2 linked regions of the Homo sapiens genome follow. The protein of the gene in region 1 purifies or fractionates together with the protein of each later gene. This does not show direct contact. Each region holds a gene or a part of one and is shown on either strand. Other genes may lie near its edges.

What was found.
Region 2: the proteins of VPS41 (region 1) and TGFBRAP1 purify together in Homo sapiens (affinity purification with mass spectrometry; 4 studies listed by BioGRID and IntAct, with this or other methods). This does not show direct contact.

What each region holds. Positions count from the first base shown.
Region 1 is NC_000007.14:38,724,192-38,731,998, reverse strand, and holds part of VPS41 (vacuolar protein sorting-associated protein 41 homolog), read left to right. Parts: intron 1-3,207; coding exon 3,208-3,307; intron 3,308-3,412; coding exon 3,413-3,457; intron 3,458-3,564; exon of another isoform or gene 3,565-3,658; intron 3,659-5,010; coding exon 5,011-5,090; intron 5,091-5,672; coding exon 5,673-5,753; 3' UTR 5,754-7,807. UniProt on the Homo sapiens protein: Plays a role in vesicle-mediated protein trafficking to lysosomal compartments including the endocytic membrane transport and autophagic pathways. Acts as a component of the HOPS endosomal tethering complex.
Region 2 is NC_000002.12:105,263,642-105,271,270, reverse strand, and holds the end of TGFBRAP1 (transforming growth factor-beta receptor-associated protein 1), read left to right. Parts: intron 1-1,565; coding exon 1,566-1,999; intron 2,000-3,711; coding exon 3,712-3,888; 3' UTR 3,889-6,857; downstream 6,858-7,629. UniProt on the Homo sapiens protein: Plays a role in the TGF-beta/activin signaling pathway. It associates with inactive heteromeric TGF-beta and activin receptor complexes, mainly through the type II receptor, and is released upon activation of signaling.

The sequences.
Region 1 (7,807 bases):
AGCCAGCTGTATATTTCAGCTGGACACACACTAAATGAAGTTGGAGTTGTGTTTGAAAAGAAGGAGCAGGAATGGTAGAGGGCAAGAAAGTGTCAGCTGTGTCTGTAATACTTTATTTTCTGGAATGAGATCTGAAGCACGTGGGAAAATATCAACAGATTTGTTAAATCTAGGTGGTAGGGACTGGGTCTTTTTTTGTTTTCAGTTTTTTTTTAATATTTCATATTTTAAAAAGAAAAATAGCACAAAATAATGAAAGATAGTGCTCAGATCAAGAGCAGCAGTGCTCAGTGCCATTCTGGTCATCGAAACCTGAGTAACAGAAGAGTGTGCATGTGCCCTAAGTATGTAAAGAACATCACATTTGCAAGTTAGAAGGGAGATGGGGAAGGTGATGATAGTCTGTGGTTGCGAAGATAGGCTGGGTAAGATGACCTTGAAACATAGCAGTCATCCAAAATCATGAGTGTGAAGGTCAAAAAGAGGTGAGGATGACCTGCTTACGCCAACTGCTGTGGCATCTGACTTTTGGCCATCAGTGTCTTTATAAAAAAGACACTCATGGGAAATTGCAAGTATGAATTTTTGAGGGTGAAATGAATGTGAACAACAGCACATTTTTCATGAGTCACTGATGGAGTTGCTACTAGGAATCCATAGTCAACATAATGCCTTGTCCTATGTCTGATGTTGAAAGCAATACCTGTAGATTGTAGTACATTATAATCTTGTACTGTCTTCCTTCACTTATCACCTTTAATTGCCTACACATTATTACAGATGTTATAGAATAAATGATTACATTCTATAGAGGATAGTCTCATATTTTGAAATACCTGCCTGGGATCATATAAATGAAACTTAAAATGTTTTCCTGTTTTTCTGATTGGGAGCCTTGAATTTTGACCAAATGAAGTAGGAGATAGCAGTAAGCTGTATTTGTGTACTTTCCCCTCTCCTGGCTGTTTGCCTCTGAATAATGAATTTTCCTAGAAAATGCTATCTGCAGGCGGACAGATTGTACCTGTTTAGAAAAATGTAATCCTGCTGAGGATATGGCTCCTTCCTGGTTTGCATATTTTGCTGTTTTCTTTTTTAGCTTGTAGACACAGTGGCCTCTGTCTAGACTGCTGGCCCTGCCTTTCTCTTATATAATTCATGCCATGGGCCTGGAGCACCCACGAGAGTCAGAGCCATTTTTTAAAATTGTTTTATCTGAGATGTTGTGGTTGAAACCATTACTCTTAAGTTTTTTATTTTTGTCTTGGAGGCTAAGCAGCTTTATATGTTTGCTTTTAAATTTATTTAAAGTTTCCTGACATCCATATTTCTTAGCTATCTTTCTTACTGTATTTGTTATTTTTCTCTTCTACCTGTATGTTTTAATGCAGTCTGTTAAAATTTTAATGTATTTTTTTAAAAATCCAAAAAAAATTGATTCCTGGTAGAATTTTAAAGAATAAAACTTCATAGGCAGTTTCTCAATTAATGTAGGAATACTAAAATCATGTAATTTCCTGTTCATCAATACTAGAAATGGCAGGCATAGAACTTTAATCTAGACATTAGTTTTGTTTTCCTGAATATTAATTTGTCTTTGTATAATTAGGGGAAAAAGGCTTTCGGCTGGATTCACCCAAAGCCAGTGCTCTTTGGGATTTTCAGAGGAACACGTGGACCACTGAGGATAGAGGGCTGCAGTTGGCTGCTCCCTTACTTTTCTTCCCCAGTGGCATGAATTTAAAACTTATGAAAGCAAAATGCCCATCTAGCTTGTCAAGTCGAGAGTGACTTCAGTATGAAGAAAGCCAAAGTGCCCCCTCTAAACAGTGGCACTTGCCCGTGAAAGACACATGCTTCTCAGCCTCAGAGCTGGGCTGTGGTGAGACAGCGCTGTCTGTTAATGTGAACTTCTATGATGTGACATGTGTAACTGCACATAACTGCGTATGATAAGACACATAGGGCCCAAAGGGAGAAGCCACAGGCACAGCCCCAGAGCGTCTCTGTCCTTCAGGCCTTGAGTTTCTCCCTCTGAAAAAGCAGCAACAAGTTCTGGTTAAAAAAAAATAATAATAATAAATGAAATGACATCTGGCTTATGCACACCTCCTGGAGCCTCTCAGTTTCCTACTAATACCTAAGAAAACCCAGCAAAGGGTGGGAGCTCACACTGTGCCCCACAGAATGGACATGAAAGGTAAAGTGTCGCCTGTCCCTGCTGTGTCCCCACCTAAAAGCAGGGGAGGATCTTGGACCCCATCGTGCCTCCAGTTCTGAAATACAACATTGGTACCAGCCAGAAATGGGCATCATCCTCCACTGTGTGCTTCTGACTTCTGAGGCTGCCAAAGCATTGTGATGTCTCTTGTCATTCTCCAGGCAGGAAGGGAGGAAATAGTAAAAAGCCTGCAGGGGAATAAGAAAAATGTGTAAAGAAACAAAAGCTATAATGCTGGGATGAAGAATAAAGAAAAGGACTCTTATGAGAGAATATTTGTATTCATGGTCATTTTTCAAACCCCTCCCAGGAGTCACCAAATTTGAAGGTTATTATAGTCAGTTAATACCACACACACACACACACCACATTCATAGCACTATGCTGAATGGTTTGGATTAGATTTGGAAAGAAAAAGATAGGTTGCATCCTCAAGGGGATTTAAGACAGAGATTGTATCTGTTTAGTTTATTATCTATACCCAGTACCCTATACGTGATAGGGACCCAGTACTTATTTGTGCAGTAAATAGATTAATTTATGAAATAAATTGATGATTTTGGAATAGCAGGTTTTCATTCTGGGTAAAGATCTGAAGAATGGAATGAACACATGATGTAGGAGCCAAAGTCTGCCCAAGAGGATCTGTATAAGGAAGCCCTCTAAAGTAGCAATAGGGTTAGTTAATATAGGGCCTTCTTTGCCAGACTTTGGAATTTATGTTTGATTATACAAATGCTACAGGAGCCCGTGTATGGTTGGAAGAAATGATGAAATGACGCACAGAGTAATGAGTGGATCCTGGCTGGCCAGGTCAGCCTGGCAGTGGTTTGGCAGGAAGAGGGTACTGAGGGCAAGAGAATCAGTGAGTGCCCCTTTTGAGTATTTCAAGCATGCCAGCTTTTGGAATCCCCAGTACAGTGTCCCTTCACCCCTCAGATTTGAGTCTACTTAAGATGGCTTTTCTTTTAAAATGTATGCATTAGATTCTGCTTCGTGAAGGCTGCAAGAAGATTCTCGTAGCTGACTCTTTGTCCTTACTGAAGAAAATGCACCGAACTCAAATGAAAGGTGTTCTTGTTGATGGTGGGTAAAATTGAAATAATCATATGGAACCACGTGCCCTGCTTTCAGAAATGGCCAAGCAGGTATAAACAGGGCATAATCCAAAGTATGTGTGTTTTCTTACAGAGGAGAACATCTGTGAGTCGTGCCTTTCCCCTATTCTTCCATCAGGTAAGAAGGTTTTCCCCAAAAAAATCCCAAACATGTATTTTAATGATGAGTGGAATCAAAATTTTGGAATTAGCCAACTACCGTTTATAAAACTATATAACTTTCAGAATAACCCAGTGGAGAGAAGTGTTGTGGCTTCCATCCTGCTCAGTGGAATGCTGGTGCTGCCATTGCTTAGAGCTGAGGTTCTCAAGCTCTAGGGTGAGTCATCGTCACCTGGCAGGCTTATTGGAACCCAGATCGCTGACCCAGTCAGACTCCCTAGAGTCTCTGGTTCCAAACTTCCAGGGCAGGAACTGAGAATGTATATTTCTAACAAGTTCCCAGGTAATGTTGATGCCACTGGTTCAGGGGCCCTTCTTTTAGAACTGCTAGTCTAGGGTAAAAACAAAATGAAAACTAACCATCAGCATTTAAATTTCAAGGTAGAAGAACCATATACATGTCTGGGAAAAAAAATTTATAGGTAGCATTCCCTTTTCTTTAGTGTTTTTCTCTGATATATGGTTCTACATGCCCAAGTCATCTCACATTTCAGTGGAAACATACATAATCCCTGCCATCTAATTGGAACTGTGAGTCTTTAAAAGACATAAGCATTTGTTTATTTCTAGTTCTTGGCAGATAGATATATGTCTTCATCTGTAATGAAAAGCACCTTCTTAAGGTTTATTATGACAGAAGAAATTTGCATAATTCAAAAGCGGAAACTAACAAAGCATTGTTAGGATGCTAACAAATGCTTTTCAAATATAAGTTCAGCATAACAAAGTACTAAAAGACCTAGTTGACCTCATGTTTACTTAGGATTAAAGGATTATTTCATGGGGCAGTCCATGAGAAGTTGTTCTACTTAGGTTCTTTTCTAGAGGAATTAGATTTGGATGTTTAAGTGCTTCTGTTGAAAACTGCATGGGCTCAGGTGAAGAAGTGAGCTTCCATAGCATTTCAGACAGTGTTGCAGCAAAAAGGAACCACATACATTCCCACTCTACAGTTAGATTTAACTCCAAATTTACTCTGCTGATGACACTAAATCTTACCAAAAATAAGCTGGCCACACAGAGCAGGAACAGATGAGGGGATCTGCCCAAGCACAAGTGCAGTAAAATGCAAGGTCACCACAGCCTGGGCTTGTAACCCAGGTCCGCCTCTGAGTCAGTGTGTGGTCTTGGCAAAGGTAGCAGGTGGACTGGCAAAGCATTTTTATGAAGCCACAGACTCAACTTCAGCTGTGGTGTATAATGATTATAGGGGTTAGGGGCGCATTGGCACATACACTTGCTGGTTTTCCTACAGTTGTCCTCAATGTAGTCTGGGTAAGTGACACAGAGGCTAAGCAAGTAACCTGTGAATCGCATAGCAACATGATTATAATACCTGTTTTGTGTCTGATCATACCACCCCTCAGGAATGCTTTTGTAAATAAGCCATTCTCTAAAGGCACCTTATTGCTGAAAATTAAACTGCAACTCGACTTTCAGTCGGGATTGGTTTAAAATGATCTTGCTTGTTGCATTAAGTTCTCCTCCTTTCTCTGCCCTCCTCGCCAGATGCAGCTAAGCCCTTCAGCGTGGTGGTCTTCCATTGCCGGCACATGTTCCACAAGGAGTGCCTGCCCATGCCCAGCATGGTGAGTTGGCAGCTTGGCACCTATCAACTAGAGGGAAATTAACACACTTAGAGGAATGTGCTTTAAACTGTAACCCTTCATCCTTATGGCTGTATGGGTTAAAAAAAAATTACAATGTGGATTTATATCACATAACAAAAATTAATCTAGTTTTCAAATGTAAAAATATTTAGAAATGTTCTATGTACTATAGTAAACATAAAAGCATACCCATTTGAAGGAATTCATTCAGGCCCAGTTGACAGCTGTCATGCTGTAGAGATGAGCAACAACAGTAGAGAGCCATTGTGTATCTTATGTGTTTCTCAGCCTGATTTGTGTTCCATGATGCTATCATTTTTTTAGTGTCATATTCCTCCAGGTCACATTAGACGTATTCTGCTGTTGGGTGTCCTTGGAGTCACAGAGTAACAGCTGATCTAGACTAAATCCTATGTTAACCAGAAATAAACTCCAGAGAAAGGAGTGCCATCCTATTACTTCCTCTCCACCCCCTGACTAACGCTACCTTAGTGTTTCTGAATATGAGAGTAGAAAAAGAAGATCATTTTTTAAATATGTGTTTTTAAATTGCATTTTTAGAACTCTGCTGCACAGTTCTGCAACATCTGCAGTGCTAAGAACCGTGGACCAGGAAGTGCAATTTTGGAGATGAAAAAATAGCTCATTTCTCCTTGTCAGTCTCCTTGTCACCACTCTTTTTGAGACTGTTTTTGCAACAACAAAAGCATTTGTTGACACTCGTGCTGTTAAGAGATTTGTTTATGTTTATATTATACTCAAAAACAATTTCTTCATCTATTCCTGTACTAATGGTTTCTCTTTGCAGTTCACAGAGAATTTGGGGCTCTCTTCATGCCTTGAAATTTTGGGGTCCATAGTGAATATTTTGTTATTTATTTGTTTGGCTCATTCTTTATATAGTAATGGAAACATAAGTCTAGGAGTTAGAAATGAATTTTTTAGACCTTAGTAAAACCATTTAACCATAAAATGGACAACTGAGAATTCTCCCAGCTGCCTGAAAGCGTCGCCAACTGTGGTTATCCTGCAAGCTGCTACCTGCAACTTGGACGTTGTTTCCACGTGCTCTGCTGGCTACGATTCTTGCATTCTGGGTTTGGCTTTTTTCTGTGTCATCAACTATGGTTATCCTCTAAATAGGCATTTAATGAAACATTGTACAAATTGTCACTCATTTGATGACACCTGGGAATAACATTAGCAGGCTGATGTCCTGCACCATTATGTTTACTAATCACATGTTCTGTGTGCTGTGACGACTGTCAAAGAGTATCTGGCCATGGCGGACACTCAGCATTTGTTGATTGAATAAATGTTAGCTCTTCTCATTGTGAAGGACTCACTTTTACTGGGATAAACAAATGCAGTTAAGAATTCTGGCACCCTTGTAAGGAAGAAAAGAGAGTTCAACACCTTCGAGTCTGAGCGCTTGTGGCTAGAGTTTGCCAGGAGGGAGGAAACCAGTGACCCTGAAAACTGAGGGTGCCTCAGGAGCAGTGGGACCACCTGATGCTGAAGGACGGACTAATGATGTTTCCTCTTGCCTTCTCTGGTGCCTCCATTGCCCTCATGGAACAGAGCATATCATAGAGGGAGAAAAGTCAAACTTGTAATTGTGTCTTACAGTTACTGGCTTCATCTTCCTTGGGATATATGGTCATCCTCTAATGAGTGTAAAAGTGCGCAAAACACATCCTTATTGTTCCTGATCTCTTAGTCCCATAAATGGGAACAAATACAGCTTTCTGCTTCTTTCTTTTTGGGGAAAGGACAGGGTGCTAGTGAGTACTGACAGCATGCCAGCTACCGAAGTCACCCAGCCATTCCCATGAGCAGCAGTTCATTTAATTGTCACAGCGTCGCCAGGAAGAAGATCTGATAAACCTAGGTTTACAGATAAAGAAAGCAAAATGTAGAGATGTTGTTGAGGTCACAGAGGTGACTGCCTAACTTCAGAGCAGGGCTTCTGATCCCTTTAAGAAATTACAGGGCCAGCCGGGCATGGTGGCTCACGCCCGTAATCCCAGGGCTTTGGGAGGCCTTGGCAGGTGGATCACCTGAGATCGCACGTTCGAGACCAGCCTGACCAACATGGAGAAACCCCATCTCTACTAAAAACACAAATTAGCCAGGCGTGGTGGTACATGCCTGTAATCCCAGCTACTCAGGAGGCTGAGGCAGGAGAATCACTTGACCCCAGGAGACGTAGGTTGTGGTGAGCTGAGATCGCGCCATTGCACTCCAGCCTGGGCAACAAGAGCAAAACTCCGTCTCAAAAAAGAAAAGAAAAGAAAAGAAATCATAGGGCCAAGTTCAAAGGAAATGCACAGAACATATCTTCACATTAGAGTTAAGAATTCTCTAGCAAACAACAGATTTTTTTGTTGTTGTTAGTCACAAATACTTAGAACTGGAAGGCTCTTTGTTATTATTGAATGTACCCCTCAGCCTTCTCAGCATTTCCTTATCCCAAGACTAGTGTGCTTTCTGCTACACTGCTAGTTTTCAGTTTTGTTCTTACCCAATTGTTTTTTCTTTTCAACATTACCAATTTACAGATTCAGTTTATTACATTTACATTAATCCTCACTTATGATTTGAGCAAGCTCATTTCCAGAAAAGTTTACTTTAAGATCATCAATAGGATTTGCTAATTTCAGTGAAGTCATTTTGCTTCAGGGGTAAATTATCCT
Region 2 (7,629 bases), on another chromosome or scaffold:
AGTGTGTCACTGTGCATTGAGGATACAAAGATGGATGAGACTTGGTCCTGGTCCTCAGAGACTCAGAGTTTAATTGGAATGCAGTTAAGGGCAGGTACAGTTCTAGAAGGGCCGAGGAACCCACGAGCTGTGCCTTGGGGTGGAGGGGTCAGAGGCAGCCTCCCGGAAGAGGCCCTATATGAGCAGTCATTAGGTATAAGCCTGGGCTTGCAGGTAGCACAGGGGAGCTTTCAGGCAATGGGGGTATCCCCCGCAGCACTGTGGGAGGAGCACTGGAAATCCAAACACTGATTTTGTATCCCTTCTTAGTTAGATGACTTGGGGAAATGTCAGTCTAGGGAAGTTGTAAAAACGATTCCAGCCCAACCTATCCACTCGGGGTGGCTGTGGGAGTCAAATATAAATGAGATGATAGATGTGGAAGTGTAAATCACCACAGTGATCTTTTCTTAACTGTCTTTGTACCTCACCCAGGGTCTTAACTATGGCAGCCACTTAGTAATTATTTGTTGGCCTTCCACTGTGAGGATGAAGGCGTTGCGTATTGTGGCTTCTGTGTCTAGTGCTATAAGGGATGTACCTTGCAGGGCCAGCCCTTGGCTACACAGGTAGCAATGTCTGCCATGTTCTTCAGGCCTAAGCGACAGCCAAGATTCAAATGCCTATAATTTGATTATTAGTCTTGACCCTAAACTAGGGGTTGTCCTCATAATATTTCTTCACAGTAGGAAGAGATCTTATAATCTCTTGAGGATGTAAAAACAGATGAGCCTCACTTCTGGTCCTTAGAGACTCAGAGTTTAATTGCAATGCAGATAAGGGCTGGTGCAGTTCCAGACGGGCTGGGTGGGAAGTTACAGATGGGGTTACAGATGGGGTAGGAAGCAAGGTGACTTTGCCCGTGAGACACAGCCCACTAAGGGTGGGGCCTTGGTCAGGAATGACGCTTTGGGTTATGTCATTTTCCTTAGGACCTGGAAGCTTAATTGCAGGTGAAACAAACAAAAAAATCCTATTATTGGCAACCTTCTGTTGAGTAATGTAGAGATGGATTTTGAATAATATGAGCTCATATTCCATTCAATGAAATCTACTTTACATTGGAATAAAGGGGTTCAGCACATCTTTTGGGGGGAAGTAGTGTTTGTTAGGATTTTAGGGGACATAGTGTCCTTCTATTTTAGTCAAAAGATACTGTCCTGGGAGGATAGGAGTGATGATGGAGTGACTGGAGACCTGGAAGGCTGATACTCACTGAGCCACTGGGCCTTTCTGTAGTTGTGGTTCATTTGTTCTTTTCATCCTCTGAACACTAGAGAAAGGAATTATTCTGTGGTCCAGCTATACTTTTGAGTAGAGTCTGCCTTCTGTTTTACTAACACCTGGATTCACAGTGTGAAAATGCAAGAAAACCTACCCTCAGTCATCTGGGTGGCAGCATTTGGCATTGTGAGGGAGCCAGGTTGACTTTTCCCCTCCTGAAGCCCAGAGCAGCAAGGAGGCCAGTCGCTGGGCGGGTGGCCGGCGAGCCCCTTTCTTTCTGAGCTGCAGGTTCTGTCTTGCAGAGAGGCTGCAGGGAGCTGGCCTGCCCATGGAGAGCGCCATCCTGCACGGGAAGCTGGGCGAGCATGAGAAGGCGCTGCATATCCTGGTGCACGAGCTGCAGGACTTTGCAGCGGCCGAGGACTACTGCCTGTGGTGCTCCGAGGGCCGAGACCCACCCCACCGCCAGCAACTCTTTCACACGCTGCTGGCCATCTACCTGCATGCTGGCCCCACTGCCCACGAGCTGGCCGTGGCTGCCGTGGACCTGCTGAACCGCCACGCCACCGAATTTGATGCAGCCCAGGTGCTGCAGATGCTGCCTGACACCTGGTCAGTGCAGCTCCTCTGCCCATTCCTGATGGGGGCCATGAGGGACAGCATCCATGCCAGGAGGACCATGCAGGTGGCTCTCGGCCTGGCCAGGTCCGAAAACTTAATCTACACCTACGATAAGGTAAGTGCTGGCCCCCACGAGCTGCTTCCTGGTCAGTCAACATTGTACTGAAGGTAGATTTTACTGATGGAAAAATAGTCTTTGTTGGTTTTTCTTTTTTCTGTCTCTATGACTACAACACATCAATATCTGATCCTACTCATAGAAACTGAGGTCTGTGTGAGCAGAGGCAGAGGCTGGGCTGGTAGGTGTAACATCGGTGTAGTTTTTCTCCCCTTTTGGACGCTGGTGATTAAGAGAGTCTGTAGGGAGGAGAGCAGCATCAGAATATCAGGCGCTTACCCAGCATGTGCTGTGTGCCAGGCACTGACCTAGGCATTTTACGTCATGCTTGCATTTTGTCATCATGACAGTTTTATGCAGTATTTACTGTCAGCATCTCCATTTCACAGGAGAGGAAATTGAGGCAGAGAGCAGTCGCATGCTCAGGAAATGGGCGTGCCCAGAGCTGCCTCCCAGGCCAGTTGAGAACCCCACATTCTTCGTCCCCACACTGTACTCACCTTCGGGAGACTTCTTTCTTGTGGGCCTAAATTCCACATGGCTGGCAGAGTCTTCTTTCCAGAGCGGGTATCCGACGTGTTCCCCTCCCACTTAGAAGCCTTTGCTGACGCTCCCTGTCCTGGAAGATGCAGTCCCACCTCCTTCAGCATATCCCTCCCCACCTCTCTCTGCTTCCCAGCTCATGTCCTGGCTTTAGCACAACCTTCCAGATGTGATTTGGTATTTCATACTTTGTTGCTTTTGTAAATGCTGTACCCACTGCCTGAGATATTCTTACCTTTTTCTTTGTCCCCAGCAAATGCCCAGTCAAAATTTAGCCTTTATTTTTTTCCCTTGGTGAAGCCATCTCATACCTCTTAAGTAGAGTAATCACCTTCTCTTTCACCCACTTTTACTTGGTGTTCGCATTCACAGCTGTTACCCGCTACTATTAGAGTTTGGGTTCTTTGAGGACAGGGAACTTCATTTCTTTATCTCAGTGTCTGTAGGGCTAAGCCTGCCATGTCGAAGGCATCTAATCCGTGTTTGTGGAATGACTGATGCAACTAAGGAGTGCAGGATGAATCGCTAAGTTGCTGCTTGATCCTGCCAATAGACCAACCTGCCTCGGTTGACACGAGTGAATTGTGTAGAAAAACTTTATAACTTTCAGAACTCAAGTCCTGTTGATCAGACAGGGACCGATGGCATTAAGACTCAGTTTCACCAGTTACCTCTAAGGAAACGGAAGGGTGTCTCCCAGGACCAACCAGGAATATGCCACTTGTTAGCTGTGTAACTTTGACTACATCCCTTATTTGTTTGTGCTTTACTTTTCTTATTTGCAAATGAGAGAACCCTGGAGTTACACTATTATATGGTCTCATTCAGCATTAACATTCATGACTTTCTAACAGGCCTTGCTTGAAATGATCAGAGCCAGAGAATGTTGGAGAGAGGATCTTAAGTAGAAATGCCTCAGCCAGACAAGCAACAATTACTTTTGTGAAATAAGAAAAGCAATTGTGTAACTTTCTTCCTTGTCCAGTTACTAAGGATGGTTTTATTTACACCTTTAGCATTTCATTTCAAGAAGTTGATATTAAAGAAATCCTCATCATAATAATAACCCATGGAGTAATGCATGTCAACTCTGCAAAACTAGAACGTAGCCACTTTAAATATACTTAACACATGACAGCATTCTCAGTCTTGGTTTCTTCTTGCAGATGAAGTTGAAAGGAAGCTCAATCCAACTCTCAGACAAAAAGCTTTGTCAGATATGCCAAAATCCCTTTTGTGAGCCTGTGTTTGTTAGATACCCAAATGGTGGTCTTGTGCACACCCACTGTGCCGCCAGCAGACACACAAACCCCAGCTCATCCAGTCCTGGCACTCGGACTTGAAAAGCTTGGCCCAAGGGTGCGAGGGGAACTCCGAGTTCTTTCTGAGCCTGCTGGACATGAAGAGCAGATGACCACCATGCTCTGTGTCAGCCAGGACGAAGGGAGACATCTGGGTGCCAGGGAGCCTTCCGTCCATACGCAACAAGGACTCCTCGCTGCTGACCAGGCTCTATGAATGTACATGGAATGACCAGGCTCTATGAATGTACATGGAAAACCCCTAAAAATCCCCAAAACAGAAACATACAAGAGTTCACCTGTCCAGGTACATAGTAATCCAAGACAGAGGTCTACTTTGAAAAAAAAAAAAAGGGAGTCTTCCTCATGCAGTCCAGACCCAGGTGGGGGATCCCCCACCACCCCCACACTCCAACCTTTAGACTCATGTTTGCACTGGAAACGTGGCTTCACCATGGCTGGCGACAAAGTCCTCTCTTGCCTGGGTGAGTGGCGAGGGCACAGAGCCTCATGGGGGTCAGCCTTGCCCTCCTGCAGAAACACGTTCTCCATCCACGCCGCTCACTCATGGGCCCATTTCCCAGGGTTACCTCGTGGGCTCTGCCTTTGCCCTCAGAAACGGCTGACCCTGGAGAAGTACCTTTGTTCCTTCTTTCTTCCTCTCCGGCTCTCAGCTCCCAAAAGATTCTGCCTTGTGTACCCAAGCACTCACTCTTGGGTGAACTAATGCTTCTGGCTGCCTAGCAAGTGAAGATCTGTTGAGAAACTGAGAACGCTCCAAGAGAGAAGCTGCTCTCCCCTCCTTGAAGAAGCCGCGGACACGGGAAACCCACGGCGGGCAAGGGCCCAGCTGTGTGCTCCTTTCCTGTCATGGCATCTGCTGATTTGAAACTCCATGACGAACACGTTGAACTAAACATTTTTATTTAAATTTGTATCATGTTCGTAGTTGCTCTCTTGTTGAGAGAGTCATCTGTCCTGTTTGTTAGGGGTATTTTTTCTTGTTAAAATGTATCTCCTGTTGAATACTCGGGAAATTCAAAGGGAAGTGTGGTCAGCACACACTGAGCGTTCTTTTCTGGAGAGGCCGGTTTTAGCCTCGTACCTTTAGCAGGACCGACAGCGGGTGGAAGGGCCCGTGTGCTGGATGGGGGTGTCGCCTCCTGGATGGCACACCCTCCCGAGGACATCCAGACAGGCTGTGTCACCCTCCAGCACTTTATGTGCCTGCTCTGAGGTGTCCTGAACACACAGCAACGGCCTCTCCTTCATCACAGGCCGGGGATTCCTTTTGTGTTTCTGTATAACATCGATGACGAGCTGAAGCTGTTGTCACTTCACTGCCCTCTTTGGAATTTCTTCATTGTGCTGACTGATTCTATTAGGGGCTAACAATAAAGGCAGTCTACCCACTACTATCATGCTTGGGAAACAAGCGTCAGCTTGTACATATGACAAGAGAGGACCCTGAATACACCCTCTCTTCATCAGCCCAAGCCTTACTGAGGTGGGATGAAGACCTCATTCTCTGTTCTTTAAAACATGTTTCGTGAACTAATATTGGTCCATGTATTTTTTGTCCTTTTGGGACTCTAAGTGGGTCAAGAAGCAAAAACATCCATGTGTTGTTTGGGGGGAATTGGCACCATTTTTTCCTGACTATGTTTCAATTAACTAAAGAATAAATGATGAAGAAATTCTCCTTGTAGCACAACTGTATGCTGTGTAAATTGGTGTGAGCTCAAAGCCCAGTCATGTGTTTTACCTGTGGGTGACTCTGTTGTAGAATGGTCATATTACTGCATATGTTATCATGACAACTTGTGAGTTTGAGTTTATATTTCTCAAAGAACAAGTTACCCGTATATGCAACATTGCGCCATTAAAAGCTTATTTCTCTGTACACAAAATGGGTAAAATCTTGAAAAAACTTAGTAATTTCTCATTCCTAACACACAGACAGAGTCTCACTCTGTCACCCAGGCTGGAGTGCAGTGGCGCAATCTCGGCTCACTGCAACCTCCACCTCCTGGGTTCAAGCGATTCTGCTGCCTCAGCCTCCCGAGTAGCTGGGACTACAGGTGCATGCCACCACGCCCAGCTAATTTTTGTATTTTTAGTAGAGACGGGGTTTCACCATGTTGGCCAGGATGGTCTCGGTCTCCTGACCTCGTGATCTGCCTGCCTCGGCCTCCCAAAGTGCTGGGATTACAGGCGTGAGCCACTGCGCCCAGCCAACACTAGTCATTTTTATTTTTTCACTGAACATTGATCAATACTCTAAAATGTTTGTCATCCTTTAGAATAATGGGAATTAAAGTTGAGCAGTTTTCCATCTCTACCAAATCCTTCACCACAAGCAGCATTCTATTACAGTATGAAGAATTGTCTCATATGTTAAAACTGTACTTTTCTCTAACCTTTCTCTCACTCCTACAAGGCCCTTTTCTCAAATCATATTTCTGAGAGAAATGTATGGTTCTTTCTCACAGGCCTGCTGATTTGTAACTGTGCCATCGAATAGAGCAATTAGATCCATCAGACCTTTTTCCCCTCATTAGGTTCAGTGGAACCATTCTGGTTAAAACAGCATGAACTGAACTCAGTTTACATTCATATTCTATGGGCAATACCATTTGGTTTTTGGAACTGTTTATCTGCTGTTCCCTATCAAGTATTAATGTAGGGATGTCACTCAGGCTGCGTTGCACTGGGCTGAGTTCAACTGCGACGCTCTCACTGACGCGTGCTTACATGTGCTTCTCACTTCCGGAGCACAGGCAGGTGGCTGCGGGGTCCCAGCTCTGAATGGATGCCCATGATGCAACTGGGGCAGCCCTTGCTTTTTGCTTGCTCTCCCACAGAAACCTTTGTCCTTGCAACTTTATCCTTTGTCCCGATTGGGTCCCAGATACACAAAATGTACAAATGTAAACTTGCTCATTTTATTAAAATTCTTTTAGTTCTTTGTTCTTTCTGTAATTTTTTAAAATAAAAATTGCCTTGATGGAGTGATGGTTTTCACTCGCACCATACCTAGTCTAAATAAAGAGTTCTAGAATCTGTACCTTCTTGCTTTTCCTAGCACCTACAGAGGACTTGAGTTGCCAACCCCTTAAATTCTGCTATTGTTTTACCAAATTTTAACGTGTCTGCTTCTGAATTTACCCAATGCATATTTTAGGGTGCTCCTTGACATTGGTTGCCATCAGATTAATCATGCACTGAGGAATTCAACCAGGGAGACTTCTGATTACTTCTTATCTACTTTACCTTTTAGCCAGATACTCTTAAATAAGGCTGCACTCTTGGATTTCTAACCCTGAGCATATTCAAAGAACATAACTCTTACAAAATCGTACCTTTTAAATTTTGCTTCATCCCCTACACTGTTGTTGATGGCAGGTCTTTCAGCTATCCTGTTGAATTTCAGAGCACTTTCTCATGTTCTTTAATTCCAGGTGCTATTCCCACCCTGAAGAAAGGGGTATGTTCACACACATGATAATCCTCTGAGTTGTTTTGTTTTGTTTTTTATGAGATGGAATTTCGCTCTTGTTGCCTATGCTGGAGTGCAATGGTGTGATCTCGGCTCACTGCAACCTCCACCTCCCGGGTCCAAGTGATTCTCCTGCCTCAGCCTCCCGAGTAGCTGGGATTACAGGTGCCCGTCCACCACACCCAGCTAATTTAAAAAATATATATTTTTAATAGAGACAGAGTTTCACCATGTTGGCCAGGCTGGTCTTGAACTCCTGACCTCAGGTGATCCACCTGCCTTGG